4 linked regions of the Homo sapiens genome follow. The protein of the gene in region 3 purifies or fractionates together with the protein of the main gene of each other region. This does not show direct contact. Each region holds a gene or a part of one and is shown on either strand. Other genes may lie near its edges.

Evidence for each region.
Region 1: the proteins of KLKB1 (region 3) and NCAPH purify together in Homo sapiens (affinity purification with mass spectrometry; 2 studies listed by BioGRID and IntAct, with this or other methods). This does not show direct contact.
Region 2: the proteins of KLKB1 (region 3) and ZBTB1 purify together in Homo sapiens (affinity purification with mass spectrometry; 2 studies listed by BioGRID and IntAct, with this or other methods). This does not show direct contact.
Region 4: the proteins of KLKB1 (region 3) and GPHN purify together in Homo sapiens (affinity purification with mass spectrometry; 2 studies listed by BioGRID and IntAct, with this or other methods). This does not show direct contact.

What each region holds. Positions count from the first base shown.
Region 1 is NC_000002.12:96,373,762-96,377,625, reverse strand, and holds the end of NCAPH (condensin complex subunit 2), read right to left. Parts: 3' UTR 535-3,864; downstream 1-534. UniProt on the Homo sapiens protein: Regulatory subunit of the condensin complex, a complex required for conversion of interphase chromatin into mitotic-like condense chromosomes.
Region 2 is NC_000014.9:64,514,738-64,521,775, forward strand, and holds part of ZBTB1 (zinc finger and BTB domain-containing protein 1), read left to right. Parts: intron 1-1,862; exon of another isoform or gene 1,863-2,014; intron 2,015-3,619; exon of another isoform or gene 3,620-3,801; intron 3,802-6,749; 5' UTR 6,750-6,767; coding exon 6,768-7,038.
Region 3 is NC_000004.12:186,237,471-186,244,508, forward strand, and holds part of KLKB1 (plasma kallikrein isoform 1 preproprotein), read left to right. Parts: intron 1-785; coding exon 786-895; coding exon of another isoform or gene 896-928; intron 929-934; exon of another isoform or gene 935-1,575; intron 1,576-1,694; exon of another isoform or gene 1,695-3,024; intron 3,025-7,038. UniProt on the Homo sapiens protein: Participates in the surface-dependent activation of blood coagulation. Activates, in a reciprocal reaction, coagulation factor XII/F12 after binding to negatively charged surfaces.
Region 4 is NC_000014.9:66,511,122-66,518,159, forward strand, and holds part of GPHN (gephyrin), read left to right. Parts: intron 1-7,038. UniProt on the Homo sapiens protein: Microtubule-associated protein involved in membrane protein-cytoskeleton interactions. It is thought to anchor the inhibitory glycine receptor (GLYR) to subsynaptic microtubules.

The sequences.
Region 1 (3,864 bases), on a different chromosome or scaffold from region 3:
TTACCCCTAGATATGTGATAGTTAAACTGATGAAAGCCAAAGATATAGAAAAGATCTTGAAAGCAGTCTGGGAAAAAAAAAAACAGCAATTACATACAAAGGAATAGTGACGAGTATATGCCTACCTTTCTTCAGAAACTATGGAAGCCAGAAGACATTGGAAGACAGTCAAATGCCAAAGGAAAAACCTATCAACCAAGCATTCTACATCCAGTAAAGCTGTCCTTCAAAAATGAAGGCAGCCTGTAATCCCAGCACTTTGGGAGGCCAAGGCGGGCAGATCATGAGGTCAGGAGATCGAGACCATCCTGGCTAACACAGTGAAACCCTGTCTCTACTAAAAATACAAAAAAATTAGCCGGGCATGGTGGCAGGCGCCTGTAGTCCCAGCTACTCGGGAGGCTGATGCAGGAAAATGGCGTGAACCCGGGAGGCAGAGCTTGCAGTGAGCCAAGACTGCACCACTGCACTCCAGCCTGGGCGACACAGCGAGACTCCGTCTCAAAAAAAAAAAAAAAAAAAAGGCAACATAAAGACAATTTTTTAAAATTTTATTATTTTTTAAATAGTTGTGGGTACATAGTAGGTGCATATATTTATGGGGTACATGAGATATTTTGATACAGGCATGCAATGTGAAATAAGCACATCACAGAGAATGGGGTATCCATCCCCTCAGGCATTTACTCTTTTCAATTACATTCTTTATTTTAAAATATACAATTGTTATTATTGACTATAGTCACCCTATTGTGCTATCAAATAGTAGATCTTATTCATTTTTTTTTCTTTTGGTACCCATAAATGATCCCCAATTCCCCCAAAAAACATTTTTAAATGAACCAAAACTGAGAATTCTACTCGAAGACCTAGATCATGGCTTGCTGCCTCAGTGCTGAGCAGCTTGGCTTCAGCCACCATGAACGGTTCCTTTCCTTGCTCCAGGACACCAAACTCGTTGCCGCAGATGCTGCAAATCCTTGTGGTGTTGAAATGACCCAGTATCCTGTGCTAAGAAGGGGAACAATGCCCCACTCTGCCTGTGATCCACTATAGTTGCACCACAGCAGAATTTCTAGGGCACCAAAGTGTTACCTGCAGCCTTTTGCTCCCCAGGGGGATCATACACTGTAGGGTGGTCTGGCCAGGGAAGTGCACCTAGCTGTACCATACTTTACTGGGAACTACAAACCCCCTTCAGATATCTGTCCTTGTTCAATTCAATTTGTAATGCCTGGTTCCCTCTTCCTTTGGATGTATTCTCTCTCAGGGCCCCACAATTCTCTCTTGCAAATTGCCCTCTCTTGCAAATTGCAAATTGCCCCTCTCTTGCAAATTGCAATTCCCTCTTGCAAATTGCAAATTCTATCTTGCAAATTCTCCTGCCCTTAAATTCTGGTTCTGTTTGGCAGAGAATGTTAAAACTTCAGTTATGGACATGGTATACGCTCTTATCTCAGGAGGCTTCTCAGCATCTGAGGCAGATACTGCTGGCTACCTCAAATTTTCTTTTAACCTTAACAGAACCCAAATTTTTAGCTGGACACATTACCACTTGTATTAGTTTGTTTTCTGTTACCTATAACAGAATACCTGAAACTGGGTAACTGACAAAGGAATTTATTACAGTTATGGAGGCTGAAAAGTCCCAGGTTGAGTCCATATCTGGTGGGAGCCTTCTTGCTGGTGGGGACCTTTGTGGCACCCTGAGGTGGCAAATATTCATATCGACCCCCAGGAAACTGATTTAACAGGGAGCAGCAGTTCTCTTTTCCCCCAGTCCTTCGTCCTGCTGCTTAGACTATGGATGTGATGGCTGGATTCCAGCAGCCACACTGAAACAGAAGGATGAGCTGGAAGGATCCCCGGTCTCTCATAATTTCATGGAACTGTCACACCAGTCCTAGAACACCTACTTCCCAAAGTATTTTATATAAAATAAACTTATCTTGCATACCCACTGTCTTAGTCAATTTGTCTGCTATAACAAAATGACTTAGACTGCTTAATTTATAAACAATAGATTTATTGTTCACAGTTCTAGAGGCTGAGAAGTCCAAGATCAAGACGCCGGCAGATTTGCTGTCTGGTGAGGGGCTCCTTGCTCACAGATGGTGCCTTCTCATTGCATCCTTACATGGCAGAAGGGCAAGAGGAACGAACAAGCTTCCTCAGGCCTCTTTTATAAGAGCACTAATCCCATTCACGAGGGATCTGCCCTCATAACCTAATCACCTCCCAAAGGCCCTATCTCTTAATACCAACATGTGAATTTTAGACACAAACATTCAGACCACAGCACACATAGCCCACAGCAACCATGTAATGAGGGAAACTTAGGAGAAGCAGGGTTGTGGGGGGAAGGGGATTTCATTGTAGAAGTTGGTATTGAACTCGCCAGTTTTTTTTTTTGTTTAAGAGATAGGATCTCACTCTGTTGTCCTGGCTGGAATGCAGTAGTGTGATCACAGCTCACTGCAGCCTCAAACTCCTGGGCTCAAGTGATTATCCCACCTCAGCCTTCTGAGTAGCTGGGATTACAGGCACACACCTCCGTACCTGGCTAATTTTTAAACTTTTTTTTTAAAGATGGGGTTCTATTTTGCCCAGGCTGGTCTTGAACTCCTGACTTCAAGCAATCCTCCTGCCTCTTCCTTTCAAAGCGCTAGGATTTACAGGTGTGGGCCACTGCACTTGGTCCCAATCTTTCTAGTTTTACTGGTAATTCAGCCCCCCACCCCCAGAACCCACTATAGAGAAGTGGGGCTGACTGAGGGAAGGAATGGGCTTAGCCAGTTCTACTCTCAGGAATAGAAGGAAAGCAAGAAGCCCAGCACTAACCTGGCCTGGGAAAGTGATGGAGGCTTCAGCCCCAGCAAGACAGAGTGTGGAGTCTCACCTGTGGCACCACTGCTTTTTCTAAGCATGCTCTGAAGTCTCTAACCTTCTCAATATAACAGAGCAGGTAATGTTTTGGACACAATTTGGAAAGCATATTCCTGTGGGGAGGGGATTATTTTTGTTTTGTGTGGTTTTTGGCTAAGAAGGAAGTTATTATCAGGAGCAATTTCCAATTATATACTTCACTGCTTCTGGCCTATATCCAAGATCTCTATTTAGCCAGTCAATGATGACGGGTGTTCTGGCAGAGATCCAGGACCAGCCAGTAACAGAACTACTTGGATCAACATCTATAATATTGTTCCAAATTGCAAGCAAAGTTAATTCCCCTATTCCTCTGAGGTTAGGGGAAGAACTTGTACATTTGTGTGTGTGCTGCATTCTGTGGAGATGGACAAATCTGAGCACTGCTCTCCACCCACTGCTGAGCCTGTATGACCTATCCAGGTAGCACATAGCACAATGGCCGAGAGCAGACTCTGGAGGCAGATTGCCAGGCTCAGGCCACCCCTGACAGTTTGCCGGCTGCCCTTTTGCAAGTTCCTCTACCTTGGGTGTCCGTTTCCTCCTCCAACATGAGAGTCACAATAGTAAGTTTCTCCTAGGGATGCTGAGAAGGCTACATGAAGCAATGTACAGAAGGGACAAGTATCACTATCAGCTCCCTCCAGCAGAATCCTGGGATTTAAGCAGGACCCAGTCTTGCATCTGAATGTCCAGTCAGCAATCTCTCTCTTCCATTCTCCTCCGAGGCAAACCATCTTGGCCCTTAGGCATCTTCTGCCTTATACTGACAGGTGTGTATCCTGGATAACAACCAGGACTGCATCCCCCTAAGGGTAAGGACTAGGTCTGATACTCATCTAGTGGACACTCAAATATTTTGCCAGTTCTATTATTAAGAATTTTATTTTTGAGCATTCTATATACATTTATAAGTGTACATATGATGTATTTTATGTA
Region 2 (7,038 bases), on a different chromosome or scaffold from region 3:
CAACAAACCCTGTATTAAGGACTCATGCCCTGTCCTTGTTTAGTGTTCTTTCCGGAAGACCATACTGTATAGTACCAAGGAAGTGCCATATATAGAGGTTATTACTATCTGGGTGGTCAGGAGTCCTTAGTCCTAGTATGTGCTTCAGCACAGTTAACTATACCCTGATACATTAAAAACCATGTATCTTTGCCTTCTATGGAATAAGAATGTTAGACTAGATTAGATCTCTCTAAGCTCTAAAAATGTATGATTAAATTACTTAATATGCTTAATGTGCTTGGTGACTGTTTTTAAACTTGAGATGAGCCGTTAAACTTTTTCAGACTAAAATTTTAAAAATCCAGTATAAAACTTTTTGGATCACCTAACTCCTTAATTCTTGCTAGAGTTCTGCACAGTGGGTATCCTTCTAGCCTTAGTGTAACTCTTGGCATTATATAGCTTGTTTTCCTTATCCAAATGACATTAAGTCCTTTGAGTCACATTGGAGGTTCTGCTCTCAGACCTGAGCCCTTGACTTCTAGTTGTGCTAAACTTGTCCTACCAGTGATGCAGCTAGTAGTACAAACAAAAGCAATCACAGATTTCAGTCGTAAAAACAAGAACAGCTGAAATACAAGCTGTCCATTTACTTAAAACCTTTTATAGGCTTTACTAGAACATAAAGTTCATTAACTTTTTTTGGCAGCATTAATAAAGAGGTCAAAAAAATGAAAAAAGAGCAAACTCCTCTTGGAATTTGAGTGAAATTATAATTTAATGAAAGTGAATGCCTCATAATTTTTTTTTTTTTTTTTTGAGATGGAGTCTTGCTCTGTCGCCCAGGCTGGAGTGCAGTGGCACAGTCTTGGCTCACTGTAAGCTCCGCCTCCCGAGTTCCCGCCATTCTCCCGCCTCAGCCTCCCAAGTAGCTGGGAATACAGGTGCCTGCCACCACGCCCGGCTAATTTTTTGTATTTTTAGTAGAGACAGGGTTTCACTGTGTTAGCCAGGATGGCTCGATTTCCTGACCTTGTGATCCACCCGCCTCCGCCTCCCAAAGTGCTGGGATTACAGGCGTGAGCCACGGTGCCCGGCCTCAAAAATTTTTAATGAAAAAATTATCTTCAAGAGATAAGCTAAAAGTCTCACAGGAATTTAGATCCCTCCTCCCCTGCCGCATACTCCTCTACCTGTTTTTGGTGTAGTAATCCTTCTTAAAGCTTTTCTGGGCTAGGCACAGTGGTTTATACCTGTAATCTCAGCACTTTGGGAGGCTGAGGTGGGAGGATTGCTTGAGCCCAGGAATTCGAGACCAGCCTGGGCAACATAGCAAGACCTCATCACTACAAAAAATATACAAAAATTAGCCAGTCATGGTGGCGTATGCCTGTAGTGCTAGCTATTCAGAAGGTGTGAGGTGGAAGGATTGCTTGGAGAATGAGTACCCATATTAAAGCAGGAACAGAATGCTATTGAGGACATTCTGAGCTATGATGGCATGCCAGCCTGGGTAACAGAGTAAGACCCTGTCTCAAAAAAATAATAATTAAAATTTAAGAAAAAAGCTTTTCTGAATGAGGTGTAACAAGGACAGAGTTTCTGGTACTAATGTGTCAATGATTGCTATTATAAGTTACTGTGCCTAAAATCAGTTTTACTCAGAACTTGGACATTTGCATAATAATGTTACTTAAACTACAATTCTAGGTCAGCCTAAAAACTGTTGTGTTAGGATTAAAAATTAGACACAGCATTTGTTCAGCTTCCATTTGTTCAGCTTCCAGCTCTATAGGGGGAATATAGGAGTATAAACATGGATGCAGTGGGATTCACACTGTGATCCGTCTGACTGAGAGCACTTGTTCTTTCTACTACAGCATGATGCCTTCTTCTGTAGAGTGGGCGCTTTGCAGAATACGTGTTGAATGAAATCACTGATCTAGGAAAAGTAAAAATTCCTCAAATGAATACAGAATACTTGTGCTACTGCTGATGATCAACACTTTATACAGTGCCTGGTATACCAAAGGTAGTCAGTAAATGTTTGTTGAATGAATAAATGTGCATTAAAATGCTATAAGTGCTCTTATTTAAATGTTTTAGTGTTTTATGTTAATAAAAGAATATGTATTTTTACTCAGTTGAATTGTGACTATAGCTATAGATGTGCCTATCATATTGATCTTCTATGTAGTTGTATTAATTTTGGTTGCTGATGATAAAACTGCTGCTCATCTAGATAAGAAAGGGTCTTTGGAACTTCTGTGCTCTTTATATCATTATTTCAAGCCTGGACTATTTAATACTTGAAAGTTTTTATAGATTAACTACTGGCTTTCTAATGGACTGTTATTTGGAAGGAAATTTTAAGGTTATCAACTCAAACTTACCTGATGCTTAAATAAGCATCACCACCATTACAACATCCACTATTACTTTCATTATTACATGCCAAGCACGATGCATTTTACACATTGCCTCTGTGAATCCTCATATATGATACTGTATTTGAGGTATTATCCCTACCTTTTCAGTTCAGGAAACTTAGGGTCAATGAGGATAAGCAAGTTCCCAAAAGTGGCAAAGCTAGATAAGAAGCCAGGTCTGTCTGATCCTAGGCCCATGCTCTTTTCACTTATTATACTGTCCTCAATAGCATTCTGTTCCTGCTTTAATATGGGTACTCATTCTCCAAACAAGTTTGTTTCATTCTTGAATTACTCTTATTAATAGAAAGTTTGGTTTTTTAGAAATAATACCTATCCCTCTGCCTCTTACTCTATAGTTTATTATTTATTAAATGTCTCTCTGAATCCTAGAAAAATGACTATAGACATAGAAATTTCATCCTACTTAAAACGGGCTTGGGTCAACATTTTTGTGTATTTTTTTCATCTTTTTTCCCCCCACCTTTTGAATAAGGTTGTGGCGTGGATTTGTTTTATATAATTCTAACATAATTATGTATCCTGTGTTTATTTATTTGGCTCTCCATCTTGAACATTTTTCCCACTTCTGTAGTTGCCATTTAGAAATATATATATATATATATATATATATTTTTTTTTTTTTTTTTTTTTTGAGACAGTCTTGCTCTGTCAGCCAGGCTGGAGTACAGTGGCATGATCTCGACTCACTGCAACCTCCCTCAGCCAGGCTGGAGTACAGTGGCATGATCTCGGCTCACTGCAACCTCCCTCTCCCAGGCGCAAGCAATTCTCTTGCCTCAGCCTCCCGAGTAGCTGGGTTTACAGGCATGTGCCACCACGCCCGGCTAATTTTTATATATTTTTTAGTAGAGATGGGGTTTCACCATGTTGGCCAGGCTGATCTTGAACTCCTGACCTCAGGTAATCCGCCCACCTTGGCCTCCCAAAGTGCTGGGATTACAGGCATGAGCCACTGCGCCTGGCCCAGAAATACAATTTTTAATTCACTGCCACATGACAGTGAATTCTGGGGCGTAGATTTACCTTAAGACTCCTTTTTTTACTAGGCATTCAAATGAGAAGTAACTCATTAATGACTATCTTTGTGCATACATTGCTTTTTGTATTTAGATACATACTGAACATGATTCCTCACAGCTTTTTACAGATACCTGAGTTACAGAGGTTTGAAATATTGTACTTACTTGAAACTTGATCTGGCTTCCAGAAAAGGTGCAGTGGTTGCAATTTTAAGAAGGCAGCAGGTTTCATCATAAGCCATCTTCATTTCACCAGTCCTGTATCTCTGGCTATGGAACTTTATGTCTTAGAGGTGGCAGGATGGGCATATAGGTAGTAAAAGGGGCGTATGACCCATATGTGATCGCTGAGGAATGGATAAAAAGCAAATAGAAGTACGTAAACGTAGATACCCTTAATTACTACTACAGAGCTTGAAGAGTGAACATTTTATTTCTCTAAACAGCTTGTTACATGTTCTTTTTAAGTTCAGTCAAATTGCATAGGAACTTATTTTTAAGTAGAAGATAGATTCTGAAGCTTTATGTATACGGATTAAAAATTGAGGCTAAAATTTGATCTTATTTTAACTTTATAATATGATAGGATTTCTAGTGCTTTTAATACTTCCTCTCCTTTCTTCCTTATCCAAAGTCAGCTCCCTACACTAAAAATACTTAAATGCCCACTAATATTGTCTAATGTTAAATGAAGAAAACTAGTTGCAGAGAGGTATATATATATATATATATATATATATATATAGTATGATACCATTTAGGTTAAAAAACACAACAAAAGCAAAACTATGTGCCTGGCATCTCATAGGTACTCAATATGCTAACTATGTACATGTGCATCTCAACAAATCTGAAGGTATATAATCCAGAGTGTTTGGAGGGGTTACCTCTGAAAAGAGGTGTGTGATCTGAGGTGTGTTTTTATTCTATATGCCTCTATGTTTGAATTTTTTGCTACTTTTTTTTTTTTTTTTGAGATGGAGTCTCGTTCTTGTCACCCAGGCTGGAGTGTAGTGGCACAATCTCTGCTCCCTGCAACCTCCGCCTTCTGGGTTCAAGCGATTCTCCCGCCTCAGCCTCCCGAGTAGCTGGGATTACAGGCGCCCGCTATCACGACTGGCTAACTTTTTTTATTTTTAGTAGAGACAGGTTTTCACCGTGTTGGCCAGGCTGGTCTCGAACTCCTGACCTCAGCCTCACCCTTCCAAAGTGCTGGGATTACAGGCATGAGCCACCGCGCTCAGCCTTACTTTTTTCTTTTAACAATTAAAAAAAAAAAAAAATAGAAGAGGCCAGGTGCAGTGGCTCACACCCACAATCCCAGCACTTTGGAAGCCCGAGGCAGGAGGATCGCTTGAACTCAGGAGTTCAAGACCAGCCTGGACAACATAGCAAGACCTTGTCTTTACTAAAATATTAAAAAAAAAAAAACAAAAAAAAACTGAATGTGGTGGCATGTGCCTACAGTCCCAGCTACTCTGGATGCTGTGGCGGGAGGATTGCTTGAGCATGGGAGATTGAGGCTGCAGTTAGCTATGATCATGCCACTGCACTCCAGCCTAGGTAACAGAGCGAGACCCTGCCTCAAAAAAAAAAAAAGGAAGAAAACTTTACACTCTAAGGATAAATAAAATACCTTCTCAAATAAACCCACTGCTTCTTTATACCCTGAAATGCATGTTGAGCAACATGAGACACATTCTAACTCTATAGAATTATTGCTTCTTTGATAATTCAAGAAAAGACAAAGGCACTGATCAAACTTGTTTGGTGCCATTTCTATATAATCTAATAAGGTTGTTGTTGTTGTTGTTGTTGTTGTTGTTTTGAAACGGAGTCTCGCTCTGTCGCCCAGGCTGGAGTGCAGTGGTGCGATCTCGGCTCACTGCAAGCTCCGCCTCCCAGGTTCATGCCAGTCTCCCGCCTCAGCCTCCTGAGTAGCTGGGAATACAGGCGCCCACCACCACGCCTGGCTAATTTTTTTTGTATTTTTAGTAGAGACAAGGTTTCACTGTGTTAGCCAGGATGGTTTCGATCTCCTGACCTCGTGATCCGCCCGCCTCGGCCTCCCAAAGTGCTGGGATTACAGGTGTGAGCCACCACACCCAGCCCTAATAAGGTTTTTTTAAATTTTTATTTTTGGGATAGAGTCTCACTCTGTCACACAAGCTAGAGTACAGTGGCGTGATCATGGCTCACCACAACCTCAAAATCCTGGGCTCAAGCCATCCTCCTGCATCAGTCTCCCGAGTAGTTGGGACTGCAGGTGCATCATCATGCCTGGCTAATGTTTTTTTGTTTTGTTTTGTTTTGTTTTTAAGGCGAGATCTTGCTATGTTGCCCAGGCTTAATAGGGTTTTTAAAATAGATTATTTTAACAACACATGGCCAATCTTGTATCATCTATTGCTCCCCACACCCACCCCATTTATTTTTAAGCATATCTCAGATGTATCATTTCATCTGTAAATACTAAAGTATATATATCCAAAAGATAAGGATTCTTTTTAACACAATCAAAATACCTTTCTCACACTTAAAAAATGAGCAATAGCTCCTTAGTATTAATCATTTAATAAGTTTTTCATACTTTACAATCTAATTGTTAACTTTCAGTTTAAGTTGCTGTTTTATTTACTTTCATTACTCATATCCTTCAAGAGTTGTTTTCTTTTTTTTTTTTTCTTTTGAGACAGAGTCTTGCTCTGTCATCCAGACTGGAGTGCAGTGGCGTGACGCAACTCACTACAGCCTCTACCTGTCGGGCTCAAGTGATCCACCCACTTTAGCCTCCCAAGTAACTGGGACTACAGGTGATGCCACCACACCTGGTTAATTTTTTAAACTTTTTTGTAGAGAAGAGGTCTCACACTATTGCCCAGGCTGGTCTCAAACTCCCGAGCTCAAGCAATCCTCCTGCCTCGGTCTCCCAAAGTGTTAGGATTACAGGCGTGAGCCACTGCACTCGGCCTCCTTCAAGTATTTTTAAATTAATGTCTTTTTTTCTGTTCAAATTTAGTGTACATGTTCCCCCCAAGAGTTGTAATGAAACTAAAACTGTCTTTTGCTTTTGATGCCTTTGTTCAATATGAAAAGCCTGAATAAATGGCTGGATGTCTTCATCTTCAAATTTAAAAAATGATTCAAGTATATATTATTGAGTTTTATTAGAATGGAAAGCTCTTAATTTCTTGATTGTAATAGCAGTCATGCAAGTCACAAATCATGATAAAAGTTAATTTTGTCAAGTGCTTTTCTATATCTTGTTTGACTTTAATATTTTTGTTTTACATAGGTCTCTAATTAACAGAAGATGGCAAAGCCCAGCCACAGCAGCTATGTCCTTCAGCAGCTAAACAACCAAAGAGAATGGGGTTTTCTCTGTGACTGCTGTATTGCAATTGATGACATTTACTTTCAAGCACACAAGGCAGTTCTAGCTGCCTGTAGCTCCTATTTTAGAATGTTTTTCATGAACCATCAGCATAGTACTGCACAACTGAATCTCAGCAACATGAAAATTAGTGCAGAATGTTTTGATCTCATTTTGCAGTTTATGTATTTAGGAAAAATTATGACAGCTC
Region 3 (7,038 bases):
CGCATCTTCAAAGCCTGACATCCTCTTCCCCTACTTCTCCAAAGCTGATTCTTGCAGGTCTTTCCTCAAATACCGTCCCCTCCAAAAGCCCATTTCTGAGCATTCTCTTTTAAGTCACACTCAGCTCTGTTTATTTCATTCATAGAGCTAATCACAATTTGATATTAACTTGTGATTTTTTTCCTTATTTTTAAATCTTATTTTTATTTGCATAGATGTATGGGGTACAAGTGTAATTTTGTTACTTTGATGTATTTTACAGTGGTAAAGTCTGGGCTTTTGGTATATCCATCACTGGAGTCATGTACATTGTACCCACTAAGCTATTTTTCAACGCCCGCCCCCTTCCCACCTCTCTGTCACCTTCCCAGTCTCTACTGTCTATCGCTCCATGCTCTACTCAATTTTGGTGTCATTTTTTCCTGAAGCAAAATTTTGGTGTCATTTTTTCTGAAGTCATTTTCTGAAGTCTGTGTCATTTTTCGCTTTCCTGAAGCGAATTTTGGTGTCATTTTTCCTGAAGTTCCGTTTGCCCCACACATAGGCCTTGCTTATAGAATGAGGGTTTAGTGTCACGGAGTCTCCTGCCTCATTCTCACCCTAACTTTTCCTTTACCCCTTTGCGAGGGGAAGGATGTCCATTAGGTTAATAATGCAGACCCCTAACCCACTCATTATCAGGGTCATTGTTTTTCCACTGTGCATTTTAATACTAACTGTTACCTGCACTGCTCCCTGCCCCTCAAAGTGCAGAAAGCAAAGTAACCTCTTTTCTTCCCATTCAGGAACAATTGCCTATTAAAGTACAGTCCCGGAGGAACACCTACCGCTATAAAGGTGCTGAGTAACGTGGAATCTGGATTCTCACTGAAGCCCTGTGCCCTTTCAGAAATTGGTAATTGTAGGACTACTTCACTTTGTGATTGTGGTAGGTGGAATAGGAGCCCCCAGAGACGTCCCTGTGCTGAGCCCTGGGACCTGTGCGTGTGTTCCCATAGCTGGCAAAAGCGTTTCTGTCAATGGCATGCAGTTACGGGCTTCGAGATGGGGAGTTTACTCTGGATTTTCTGAATGGGCCCAATGTACTCACAGGGTTGAGTGCTCACAAGGCTCATAAGAAAAAGAGAGAGGCGGAAGGCTCAGAGCCAGAGAGAGAGGTTTGAAGGTATTACACTGCTGGCTTTGAAGATGAAGGTCCGTGAGCCAAGGAATGCAGGCGGCCTCTAGAAGTTGAAAAGGGCGAGGAAAGAGTTTCCCTGTGGAGCGTCCTGGAGGAAGAAGCCCTGCTGATGTCTTGATTTTAGCCCAGTAAGACCCAATCTCTAGAACAGTAAGATAATTAATTTGTGTTGTTTTTAACCACTAAGTTTGTGGTTATGCCCCTAGAGCAGCAGTTATAGGAAACTAGTACAGTGATACTGTTAGAGTTATAGGACAGTGATATAGGACAGTGATACTGTTATAGTTATAGGAAACTAGTACAGTGATACTGTTAGAGTTATAGGACAGTGATATAGGACAGTGATATTGTTATAGTTATAGGAAACTAGTACAGTGATACTGTTAGAGTTATAGGTACAGTGATATTGTTATAGTTATAGGAAACTAGTACAGTGATACTGTTACAGGTACAGTGATATAGGACAGTGATACTGTTATAGGAAACTAGTACAGTGATACTGTTAGAGTTATAGGTACAGTGACATAGGACAGTGATACTGTTATAGTTATAGGAAACTAGTACAGTGATACTGTTAGAGTTATAGGTAGAGTGATATAGGACAGTGATACTGTTATAGTTATAGAAAACTAGTACAGTGATACTGTTATAGTTATAGGACAGTGATATAGGACAGTGATATTGTTATAGTTATAGGAAACTAGTACAGTGATACTGTTAGAGTTATAGGTACAGTGATATAGGACAGTGATATTGTTATAGTTATAGGAAACTAGTACAGTGATACTGTTAGAGTTATAGGTACAGTGATATTGTTATAGTTATAGGAAACTAGTACAGTGATACTGTTATAGGTACAGTGATATAGGACAGTGATACTGTTATAGGAAACTAGTACAGTGATACTGTTAGAGTTATAGGTACAGTGACATAGGACAGTGATACTGTTATAGTTATAGGAAACTAGTACAGTGATACTGTTAGAGTTATAGGTACAGTGATATAGGACAGTGATACTGTTATAGTTATAGGAAACTAGTACAGTGATACTGTTATAGTTATAGGACAGTGATATTGTTATAGTTATAGGAAACTAGTACAGTGATACTGTTAGAGTTATAGGTACAGTGATATAGGACAGTGATATTGTTATAGTTATAGGAAACTAGTACAGTGATACTGTTATAGTTATAGGACAGTGATATAGGACAGTGATATTGTTATAGTTATAGGAAACTAGTACGGTGATACTGTTATAGTTATAGGTACAGTGATATTGTTATAGTTATAGGAAACTAGTACAGTGATACTGTTAGAGTTATAGGTACAGTGATATAGGACAGTGATATTGTTATAGTTATAGGAAACTAGTACAGTGATACTGTTATAGTTGTAGGACAGTGATATTGTTATAGTTATAGGAAACTAGTACAGTGATACTGTTAGAGTTATAGGTACAGTGATATAGGACAGTGATACTGTTATAGTTATAGGACAGTGATATTCTTATAGTTACCGTGGTATAGTTATAGTTAAAGGTACAGTGATATTGTTATAGTTATAGGACAGTGATATTGTTATAGTTATAGGACAGTGATGTAGTTACAGTGATATAGGTACAGTGATATTGTTATAGTTATAGGACAGTGATATAGTTATAGGACAGTGATATTGTTACAGTTATAGGTACAGTGACGTTGTAATAGTTATAGGACAGTGATATTGTTATAGTTATAGGTACAGTGATGTTGTAGCAAAACTGTAAGGTCATTCCTTGGTTGTGTCCCTATCTAGTGAAATGACTCTACCAGGGGTAGGGAAATAAAACTCTGTCGTTTCACACATAAAGGTAATTTCAATGGAATTATCCAGAAAATTGCCATGACATTCCACCTCATTTAGCATGTCAGGATGTTAATGACAAGATGTTACTAAAAGCAAATCCCTTACGGCCAGTTTTCCGCAGTACTGGGTGCTGGCTCTGTGCCTGGCCCTGTATTGGGTGCTGGGCTAGGATTTCCCTGTGGAAGATTGGGAAGGTTGGTTACAAGGTGGCTATTTTCCTGTCTCCTCTTTGCGACAGCACACCTTCTCCATGGTGTGTGCCAGGTTCACGTGTACTGGTGATTTAATTTTAACGTTCATATTATTTTTTTCTGGGAGAGTTTTTGAAGGCTGCCAGGAGGCAGGACTCGATGCAAACATGCTCCATTCTGTACCCAGCCCTGTTGCTGGAAGGATTTGCTGCACTTACCCAGGGAACAGGCAAGCTCGTGCTGTGGCTCTGGGCTGTCACAGCTGCTGTCCACACCTGGGAGAGCACCCTGGATGGCTCATCTGTGTACTTGCTTTCTTGTTAAATTGCAGTGAGTTCACATGTGATTTAATCGGATCAAATGGCCTTTACAGACTGATAAAAATATGGCTGTTTCAGGTGGTGTTTTGAGCTGCTAAGGGCGTGGCTTTTCACTGAGTACGTGGTCCCCGTTCCTCAGGGAACACCCAGTAGCCACATGCCTCCTAAACCTAGAGTAGGGCTGTCTCCTGGCCTAACTGCCCAAATGAGATTCATAAGTTAGGGATGATCTGTAGTTATCACTACAGATTTGTCCTTGGTTTCACCAAGGATTTTCCTAATTTTACAAACAAAACCCCTAAGGCTCCTGGAAGGAGGGTAGAAGTGAAGGTGCTCCGGGGGCAACACAGCTGATGAGCTGAACCAGAACTCGACCCTTGGGTCACACACATTTCACAGTGCTCACTCCACCTTTTGTTTTTTTAATGGATTTAATGGTGTTTTAAAGCCTCCTGCCTCTCAACACATATGAATTCATTATATTTACAGATTTCCTTCTCTTGTGGTCCATCTTCCTGCATAGATCTTGAGAGATGTCAGGCTAACCACGTTTCCTCAGTTAATTTAACAAAACCATTTGCAACTCTGACATGGAAAATTCCTACCATGTGACTTATTAATTTATCAATTGAGATGGTACACATATTTTCAAGCCAAAAGGAGGAAAACATAAATTGGAAAAAAAAGGTTTTTTTATTTTTATCACCTCTGGGGAAGAAAGTCTGATAAACGAAGCTGGTTGATAAAATTGCAATTAGGGGAAGCAACATCATGGTTTCTGTTCGGAGGCTAACCAGATGGCATACTTGAAATAGAGAATGTCCTAGAAATCAACTGGTTGCTTGGCCAAAATATCTATAAATAGTGCCCAACATATTAGATAGGAAAAGCAAAGTAAAAACAATTTTAACAGGTTAGGACATTGGGCTGAAGTATTGCATATATTTAATGTCATGTGCGTCCGTGTGAAGAGACCACTAAACAGGCTTTGTGTGAGCAAGAAAGCTTTTTAATCACCTGGGTGCAGGCAGGCTGAGTCCGAAAAGAGAGTCAGTGAAGGGAGATGGGGTGGGGACGTTTTATAGGATTTGGGTAGGTAGTGGAAAATTACAGTCAAAGGGGGTTGTTCTCTGGCGGGCAGCGGTGGGGGGTCACAAGGTGCTCAGTGGGGGAGCTTCTGAGCCAGGAGAAGGAATTTCACAAGGTAACGTCATCAGTTAAGGCAGGAACCGGCCATTTTCACTTCTTTTGTCTTTCTTCAGTTACTTCAGGTCATCTAGATGTATACGTGCAGGCCTGGGCCCAGAGGCCTGACATTCCTGTCTTCTTATATTAATAAGAAAAAGAAAACGAAATAGTGGTAAAGTGTTGGGGTGGCGAAAGTTTTTGGGGGTGGTATGGAGAGATAATGGGCGATGTTTCTCAGGGCTGCTTCGAGCGGGATTAGGGGCGGCGTGGGAACCTACAGTGGGAGAGATGAAGCTGAAGGAATATTTTATGGTAAGGGGTGATATTGTGGGGTTGTTAGAAGCAGCATTTGTCATATAGAATGATTGGTGATGGCCTGGATATGGTTTTGTGTGAAATGAGAAACTAAATGGAAGACACAAGGTCTGAATAAGAGAAGGAGAAAAACAGGTGTTAAAGGACTAAGAATTGGGAGGACCCAGGACATCTAATTAGAGAGTGCCTAAGGGGGTTCAGTGTAATTACTTGCTTGGTTGGTGAGTTTTTGGGCTCTATCCTTGACAGAGTCCTCCTTTTTAAGTTGGAGGCTGAGCTTGGTGAGGTGTGTTTTTAAAAGACCATTAGTCTGTTCTACCTTTCCTGAAGATTGAGGATGGTGAGGGGTATGAAGGTTTTACTGAATACCAAGAGCCTGAGAAACTGCTTGGGTGATTTGACTAATAAAGGCCGGTCTGTTATCGGATTGTATAGAGATGGAAAGGCCAAACTGAGGAATTATGTCTGACAGAAGGGAAGAAATGACCACGGTGGCCTTCTCAGACCCTGTGGGAAAGGCCTCTACCCATCCAGTGAAAGTGTCTACCCAGACCAAGAGGTATTTTAGTTTCCTGACTCCGGGTATGTGAGTAAAGTCAATCTGCCAGTCCTGGGCGGGGGCAAATCCCCGAGCTTGATGTGTAGGGAAGGGAGGGGGCCTGAGCAATCCCTGAGGAGGAGTGGAGTAGCAGATGGAACACTGAGCAGTTATTTTTTGAGGATAGATTTTTACGACGGAAAGGAAAAGTGAGGTTTTAAGAGGTGGGTTAGTGGCTTGTAACTTACATGGAAGAGTTTATGAAATGATGACAGAATAGAATGGGCCTGTGAGGCTGGAGGAGATATTTTCCTTGGTCCAAGAATTATTTGCCTTGTGTGGGAAGAGATTGATAGGTGGAAGTTTCAATGGGGGAGTAGATGGGAGTGACAGATGAGGAAGAAAAAAACTGGCTGTGAGGGATAGAAGTTGGAATGCTCGCTGCTTTTTTAGCTACCTTATCAGCATAGGCATTGTCCTGAGCAGTGGGATCTGATGCCTTTTGGTGGCCCTTGCAGTGAATGGCTTCAGCTTCCTTTGGAAGTAAAGTGGCCTTGAGAGGAGTTTTTATTAAAGAGGCATTAAGATGGAGAACCCTTGTGTAGTGAGGAAACCTCCTTCAGCCCATATAACCGCATGGTGGTGCAGAATATGGAAGGCATATTTAGAGTCAGTATAAATATTGACACGTAGTCCCTTTGCAAGAGTGAGGGCCTGAGTTAAGGCAATGAGTTCAGCTTGCTGAGAGGTAGTGGAGCGGGGCAGAGCAGTAGCCTCAGTGATAGATGTGGAAGATACTACAGCATAGCCTGCCTTTGCTGGTGAGTGGTGATTAGGCCTGGTGGAACTGCCATCAATAAACCAAGTGTGATCAGGGTAAGGAACAGGAAAGAAGGAAATATGGGGAAATGGAGTGGATGTCAGGTGGATCAGAGAGATACAGTCATGGGGGTGGGGGCCAGCCTAAAACAGTAAGGTCAAGTTGTTTGAACAGAAAGGCTACAGGGCGTGGTCCTGGCTCTTGTGTAAGAATTTTGACTGCGCAGCCCTGCACTTCGGCTGTGTGTAATGAAAAGGGTTGGGATGAGTTAGGGAGAGCTAGTGTGGGAGCAGTTTCTAGGGCTGTTTTTAAGGAATGGCAAGAGGAGTGGCTAAAGGATTTAGGATCTTTGGGGTCAGCTAGCTTTGCTTTTGTGAGTTTATATAATGGTTTAGTCAGGATGGTAAAACTTAGTATCCAAAGGCGGAAGTACTTAACCATACCTAGGAAGAAAAGGAGTTGTTTTGTAGAAGGGGTTGGGGTTTGGGAGATGAGCCAGACACAATCAGCAGGGAGAGCACATGTGTTTTCATGAAGAATTATGCCGAGATAGGTAATGGATGAGGAAGAAATTTGGGCTTGACTGAAGTAATGGGGGCTGTCCTCGAAGCCTTGTGGCAGTACAGCCCAAGTAAGTTGCT
Region 4 (7,038 bases), on a different chromosome or scaffold from region 3:
TCTCAAGTCTGTAACTAGTGGGTTTCATTATCAACAGCTTAATTTCTGTGGTCTTGCCTGATATACCATATGATTTGGGGGAAAGAACTTACAAAAATGAAGCTGTGCTGTACAATTTTGTGTATTCTAGAACTTGAGGTTTTGCAGTTTTACTATGTAGAATTATTCTTTACTGAACTGAAGTATTGTGATTTCATACTTAAGAAAGTTGAGTTGAACTGTGGTTTTTGTAAATTATTATTTGTGGCTCTTAAAAGGTGGAGGGTCTCTTTTAGAAAATCTCCTTGGCATGCTTCGTAATACTAATTTTAAGTATTTTATCTATATCTATTTTACAAAGATAGTGGAAAGTGTGATCTACCCACACACACATTTTACAATATGTTACTTAGTATTTTGTGAAGTCATATTGTCATTTCTAAAGTTTTTAATTGACGTTGTGACATTTTTTATTACCTGTTGAAAGATATTTGTTCTTTGAAACTTTTCATCCATTAGATGTTTTCGTTATCTTCATTTCAGTTGTAAATTTGGCAAATTTAGTACATAGTCTGTTGAGACTTCTCATTAAATAAATTAATTGTATTAGGTTTATGAAAGAATAATGGTAGAAAGGGAAATATTTAGCAGAAGCATTTTTTTGCTTCATTATTTTGAATTATTAAGCACTTGAAAATGAGATTATGATAATTAATGTAACATGGATATTCTAATTATACTTTTTTTTAAATCAGGAAAATGAGAACATATATGTATATAAAATAGGCTGTATGTGGAAACATTTTATGTTGAATATTATTGTCCATCTCTAACAACAATAACTTTGTTCGAAACTGTCTTATGTTGACTTGACAGAAATGAAAGTCACATGGTGTTTGGTGACCTAAGGTCTAGTTTGAAATATTTCTGTGTCTAATTAGTTGTCTACTTGTATTACTATTTATAGAAGAGACTAGAGGTAATATGGTAATGAGTAACATGAAGCAAATAAACAAGTATCTGCTACTTGAAAACTAGAAACAGGATGTGGTGCAGATGTAGAATTTTTTTCTAACAGCTTTAGTAGTGATTATACTTGAAGTCAATCTTACCAGTTACATAGCAGGCTCACTATATCTGGAATATGTCACTCTTCACATACTTTTTTCTATTTTGAAAGAAGCTGTTTATCAAAGCAGCATACTAGTTTTACCTGTAAAAGCTCTACAGAAACATTACTAGGAAAATAATGACTACATGTATGTATAGAATGTAGAATCATATAGATTATTCCATTGGCTACTGAATATCGTATTAGTTCGCTACAGCTAATGTTTGATACCAAGGTACTTAGCTGAAGATGATAATCCATTACCTAAATTGTCACTAATAGGGGCATGAATGAGAAAAAGGTACAAATTTTTGGGAAAGGGCATTTTTAAAAATCATATTTTTGCTGTAGTAATATACATTTTAATTGCACTAACCTGTTGATTTGAAATCAGTAAGAGATACTGGAACAAATATAAGACTAGGTACTAGAGATTAGTTAAAAGACTAATTGTAAATGAGAACATCAAAATATTACAGTAACAGGTAGGGAGTATTTCAGTTATTCATAAATGAAGTCATTCAAAGTATTAAAAAAACAAGCTTGAGCCAAGCAGATGCTACTGTCATAACTCTGCAATTGTTTAAGCATTTACTTTTTTACATTCTTGAAACCTGTTCTGGTATATTATGTGTCAATATTATTTTCTGAAAAGCCCATTTATTGATAAGGATATATACATATTATATCTGTTTTGAGAATAGATGTCATTAAGTAGGCAAATTACTATTAAATCCTACTAAGTGGAACTGTATGTTCTGCCTAACTTAGCTGTTTTTTTAATATGTGTTTTTAATATTGATCTATATGACTTGAAAGGAATCCTATTTCTTGAAATAGATTGTTATTTTGTGAATTTTTTGTTGAAAGCAATGTATTAGAGAATTAAATGTTTAGGCAAAGTAGGAAAATGTTAAATTAATTTCTAATGAATATACTTAGTACTATTATCATTGGTCAAAGACTTGAAAAAGTATTAGTTGCTATACAATAAGAATTTTAACTATATTAAAAACACATGTGACAATTTGACTTCAAAGTGAATATACTTAATACTATCATCACTGGCCAAGGACTTGAAAAAGTATTAGTTGCTATACAATAAGAGTTTTAAATACATTAAAAACACATACAACTATTTGACTTCAAGCAGGCATATAGTGGAAAGTCAATAGTATGTTTTTAGGGAGGAAGTGACGAATAAGAGTCTATTTTTAATCTTGCTAGTGATAGATTCCTGGCTAAGTTGAACAGGGTGTTTTTAAAAACAATCAGTAAAATAGATAAAATCTATTACTCTGTTTCTGTAAATAGGATTGAAGAATAATGAAGCATATTTGGAATTTGAAAGGTATTAAAAAAAGATCCTGAAAAAGAAAGTAGTGAAACCACAAAGGATTTCTTCCTTCACATCTGGGCAGAGAAGATAAATACCAAGGAAGAAGAAAAGATTGTTTAACCTACTTAAAAGTAATTGGGACTGTAGTCAATATGAATGGCATCTAATCTCACTTTCATTAAAAAGTTTTTTTGAGTGACCTCTCAAAAAGGAAATGTTTAATGAAGTATTGCTAGGTAGAAGTTCTATCCAGGTTCTTTAATGAATTTATAAACTAAATTGTTTTTAATAAATTAATTTTAACTAAGTAGAGCTTCTTGAAAATTTTGTGTTTAAACAACCCCAACAATTTTAACAGTAGCTTTGTCAGTATTTATACATTTCGAAAGAGTGTAATTAAATTTACCATGCTTTAAAAAGAATTCTTAATTTGAAAAATAAAGCAGCAAGGAAATGAAATATGATGAAGGAATTGTCACCATAATTTGGGGCATTCTTCTCAAACTGGAGTACATGACATTGTGTCAAGGGATACCTATAAGGCTTAGAATCTAAGCCACAGGAACAAACATAATAATTTTTTAAGTACCAATTTTACTTGATGGTATTAATTTAAATAACTTTAATATTAAGATAAGCATAAGTAAATTAGGCACAAAGTATAGAATTCATATGAGGCTTTAAGATGAAATTAGAAACTTCAAAGAAATTTCAAGTGAGCCCATTATATTTCAAGTGAGCTCCAGATCTCGTCATTCTTCTGCGTTATTGACACTTCATGGCAAAAAATTTAAGGAGCACTGAATCATAGAAAGAACACTGTAAGAACTATGTTCTCATACTATTCTGGCTAGTAAAGTTTTGTAACCTTCAGTATATTGTGTAACCCTCTCTCAGCTTTTCTTACCACTAAAATGAAGAAATCACTCTCTAAGATCACTTCAAGGCTCTCATGGCAGTATATGTTTCTATCTTTTAGCATTCTGACCAGCAGGAAAGAGAAATATAGGATATTAGACCTAGTTAATTTTTTTCTGTCTTTATAATGGGAATGATTATAGGGGAGGGTAGGTTATACATAAAAATGCAAGAGAATAAGAAATAGAATAATGATCAAAGAAGGAAAATATTTAGATTTTTTATTTAGAAATTTTTGTGACATTAATCTTTCTGTTATTAGCAATCTTACACTTAGGTTTCAGACACAGCTCAGGACTGACTTTGTCAATAAAATATTTCCTAGGAATTATTCTCTTCAATGATGTCTTTCTTTGTTTTCCTTACAACGTTTATAAATGTTGTCTATACCCTGTAATCTATATGTGGGAGGCTGCATGGTGTAGCTTAAAAAGGATAGAACTTTGGAGTCAGATAGACTTGGACTTCAGACCCTCATTTGCCCTTTATTTTGGGAAGTCATTTCACCTCTCTGAATTTCAGTTTTCTTCTCCGAAATGAAGATGGCAATATCTACTTTACAAAGTTTTCAGAACTAATAGAGGTAACGCATATGAAAATGCCTAGCATTTTCAGATGAGATACTCAGTTATTTTTGGTTCCTTCCTCTTTGTATGTTGCTTTGGGAGCAACTTGCCACAGTTTCGTGTATACATGTCTTATTCAAAGTAGATTTTAAAGTTCTTGAGATATATGGTTATGTTCTTTACTTCTTTTGTGCCCTTTTGTCATAGCATCTGTTAATGAAGTAATTGGATAGAAGGTGTTTAATAAAAAAATTGGGTGGTGTAAAATTTATATAGTACCTTAAGAAACATTTAGGTAAACCAGAACTTGGCTATTATTACTAAAAGGATAGTTTAGGGTAGATGGAGTGAAGTTGATTAGTTTTTAAAAGGTATGTTTTTCTGGTAATAGGATGATATTTATAACGATGTGTGTTTGAGATGTTTTATAGCATTAAATTTTGTATATTGTTTTAGTTGGGTGTTGTTTGTGTGAGGATAATTTTAGACTAATGAAATTTGATATCTAAAAACTAAAAATTTGAAATTATAGGTAAAAAAATTCTGAAAATGCTGTTAATGTTGATTCTGGTGATCAAAATAACACTGTTAGGAGTCAAAAGTTATGCCTCTTCTCCCACTTTCAAGATAAGCACATTTTACCACAGTTTCCTTACCTTTAAATGGGGGTAAGTGTGTTTACCTTGATGGGTTAATGTGAGAAATGAAATAATGTATTCAGTATTCAACACCTACTATGTACCAAGGCCCTGTGCTAAGTGAAGGATACAATAGTGATTAAGACAGTTCAATCTTTCTTGTCTTGAAGCATATATTCTAGCACTACTGTGAAAACATTATTCAGTCAAGTTGAATATTGACACATTCATGCTTCATTTATGTTTCAAGGAATAAGGTGCTTTTATATTTTATTTTTTAAGTAGATAACAAGTACAAGCACCAAAACTGTTTTTATGTCAAGCCATTTTTTTGATACACATTTTTTTTTTTTTGAGACGGACTCACTCTGTCGCCCAGGCTGGAATGCAGTGGTGCGATCTCAGCTTGCTGCAACCTCTGCCTCCCGGGTTCAAGTGATTCTCCTGCCTCAGCCTCCCGAGTAGCTGGGATTACAGGCGCCTGCCACCATGCCTGGCTAATTTTTTTTTTTTTTTTGTATTTTTAGTAGAGACAGAGTTTTACCATGTTGGCCAGGCTGGTTTTGGACTCCTGACCTCAAGTGATCTACCTGCCTTAGCCTCCCAAAGTGCTGGGATTACAGATGTGAGCCACCGTGCCTGGCCAGCAATTATATTTCTACATTCTATTCTGAATATCTGTTACTGTGACATGATAGTATGTTTCCATAACGTATATGCTTTTCAGGTTTTACCCACTTGCCCTTCCTCTTCCTGCCCTGCCCTTCTAATCTACTATATCCTTGGGAACCACATAAACTTGCTAAGAATTATTTGTGATATTACATCCAGTTAGATTTGAAGTGAGGGTCTAAAGGCACATATTTTCACTTTTGGGTTCAGGGCATCAGAAAATGAGTGGATATTACTATAATAAATAGCTTTATTTCTTTGTATAGTACTTCACGATTTCAGGATCATGGCTAAATGTGTCTGCCTGATGCTGTAAATGTTAATAAAAATCCACTCTATGAGTGAAAGAGATTAAGTGCAATTTGAATGCTAAGTAAAAATGAAATGTTTCTTTTAATTATTTCTTGTTCTTTTAAAAAACACATTAATGTGCACTTGAAATTAATAATCTTTAAAGTCTAATTAATGGTTAAGAACTGTTGGATATCTTATAAATAAGAAACTGAGCCAGGCACAGGGGCTCACGCCTGTAATCCCAGCACTTTGGGAGGCTGAGGCGGGCAGATCACGAAGTCAGGAGATTGAGACCATCCTGGCCAACATGGTGAAACCCCACCTCTACTAAAAATATGAAAATTAGGCAGGCATGGTGGTGTGTGCCTGTAATCCCAGCTACTCGGGAGTGAGGCAGGAGAATCACTTGAACCCCTGAGGCAGAGATTGTAGTGAGCCAAGACTGTGCCACTGTACTCCAGCCTGGCCACACAGTGAGACTCCATCTCAAAAAAAAAAAAAAAAAAAAAAAAAAGAAGAAACTGAATAGAGTAAAAATACTATTTTCAGATGTAAAAAGATGAAGGAACATTTACACGGTGGTGCCCCCCTCTTCACTTTCACCTAAGAGTCTATACAGAACATTTTGATTATAGTCTAAACTTTAAAAATTATGCTTTCATAAAATTAACATCCACATTGTAGAAGTTACGTTTGGATTAAACTGCAAGTGGGCACTACCCAAAGCAATCTACAGATTCAATGCAGTCCTATCAATGACATTCTATACCAATGACATTCTTCACAGAAATAGGGAAAAAAAAGTTAAAATTTGTATGGAACCATAAAGGACCTGGAATAGCCAAAGCAATCCTGAACAAAAAGGACAAAGCTGGAGACATCATACTATCAGACTTTAAAATATACTACAGAGTGATAGTAACCAAAACAGCATGGTACTGGTGTAAAAACAGACACATAGACCAAAGGAACAGAATCGAGAACCCAGAAATTAATCCTCATATCTACAGCCAACTGAGTTTTGAGAAAGGTCCCAGGAACATTTGCTGATGAAAGGACAGTATCTTCAAGAAATGTTTCTGGGAAAAAGGATATCCATATGCAGAAGAATGAAACTAGAGCCCCACCTCTTATTCTGTACAAAAATTAACTCAAAATGAATCAAAGACCTACATGTAAGACAGGAAACTATGGAACTGCTAGAAGAAAACATAGGGGAAATGTTTCAGGACATTGGTCTGGGAAAAAATTTTATAAATAAGACCTCAAAAGCACAGGCAAAAAAAGCAAAAATAAACAAGTGGATTATAGTAAACTAAAAAGCTTTTATACAGCAAAGGAAATAACCAACAGAATGAAAGGCAGCCTATAGAATGGGAGAAAATATTTGCAAACTGTTCATCTGACGGGGGATTAATATCTAGGATATACAAGAAACTCAAACATCTTAACAGCCAAATAAATAAATAAATAAATAAATAAATAACCCAGAAAAAAACAAAACAAAAAAAACCCTGCAAA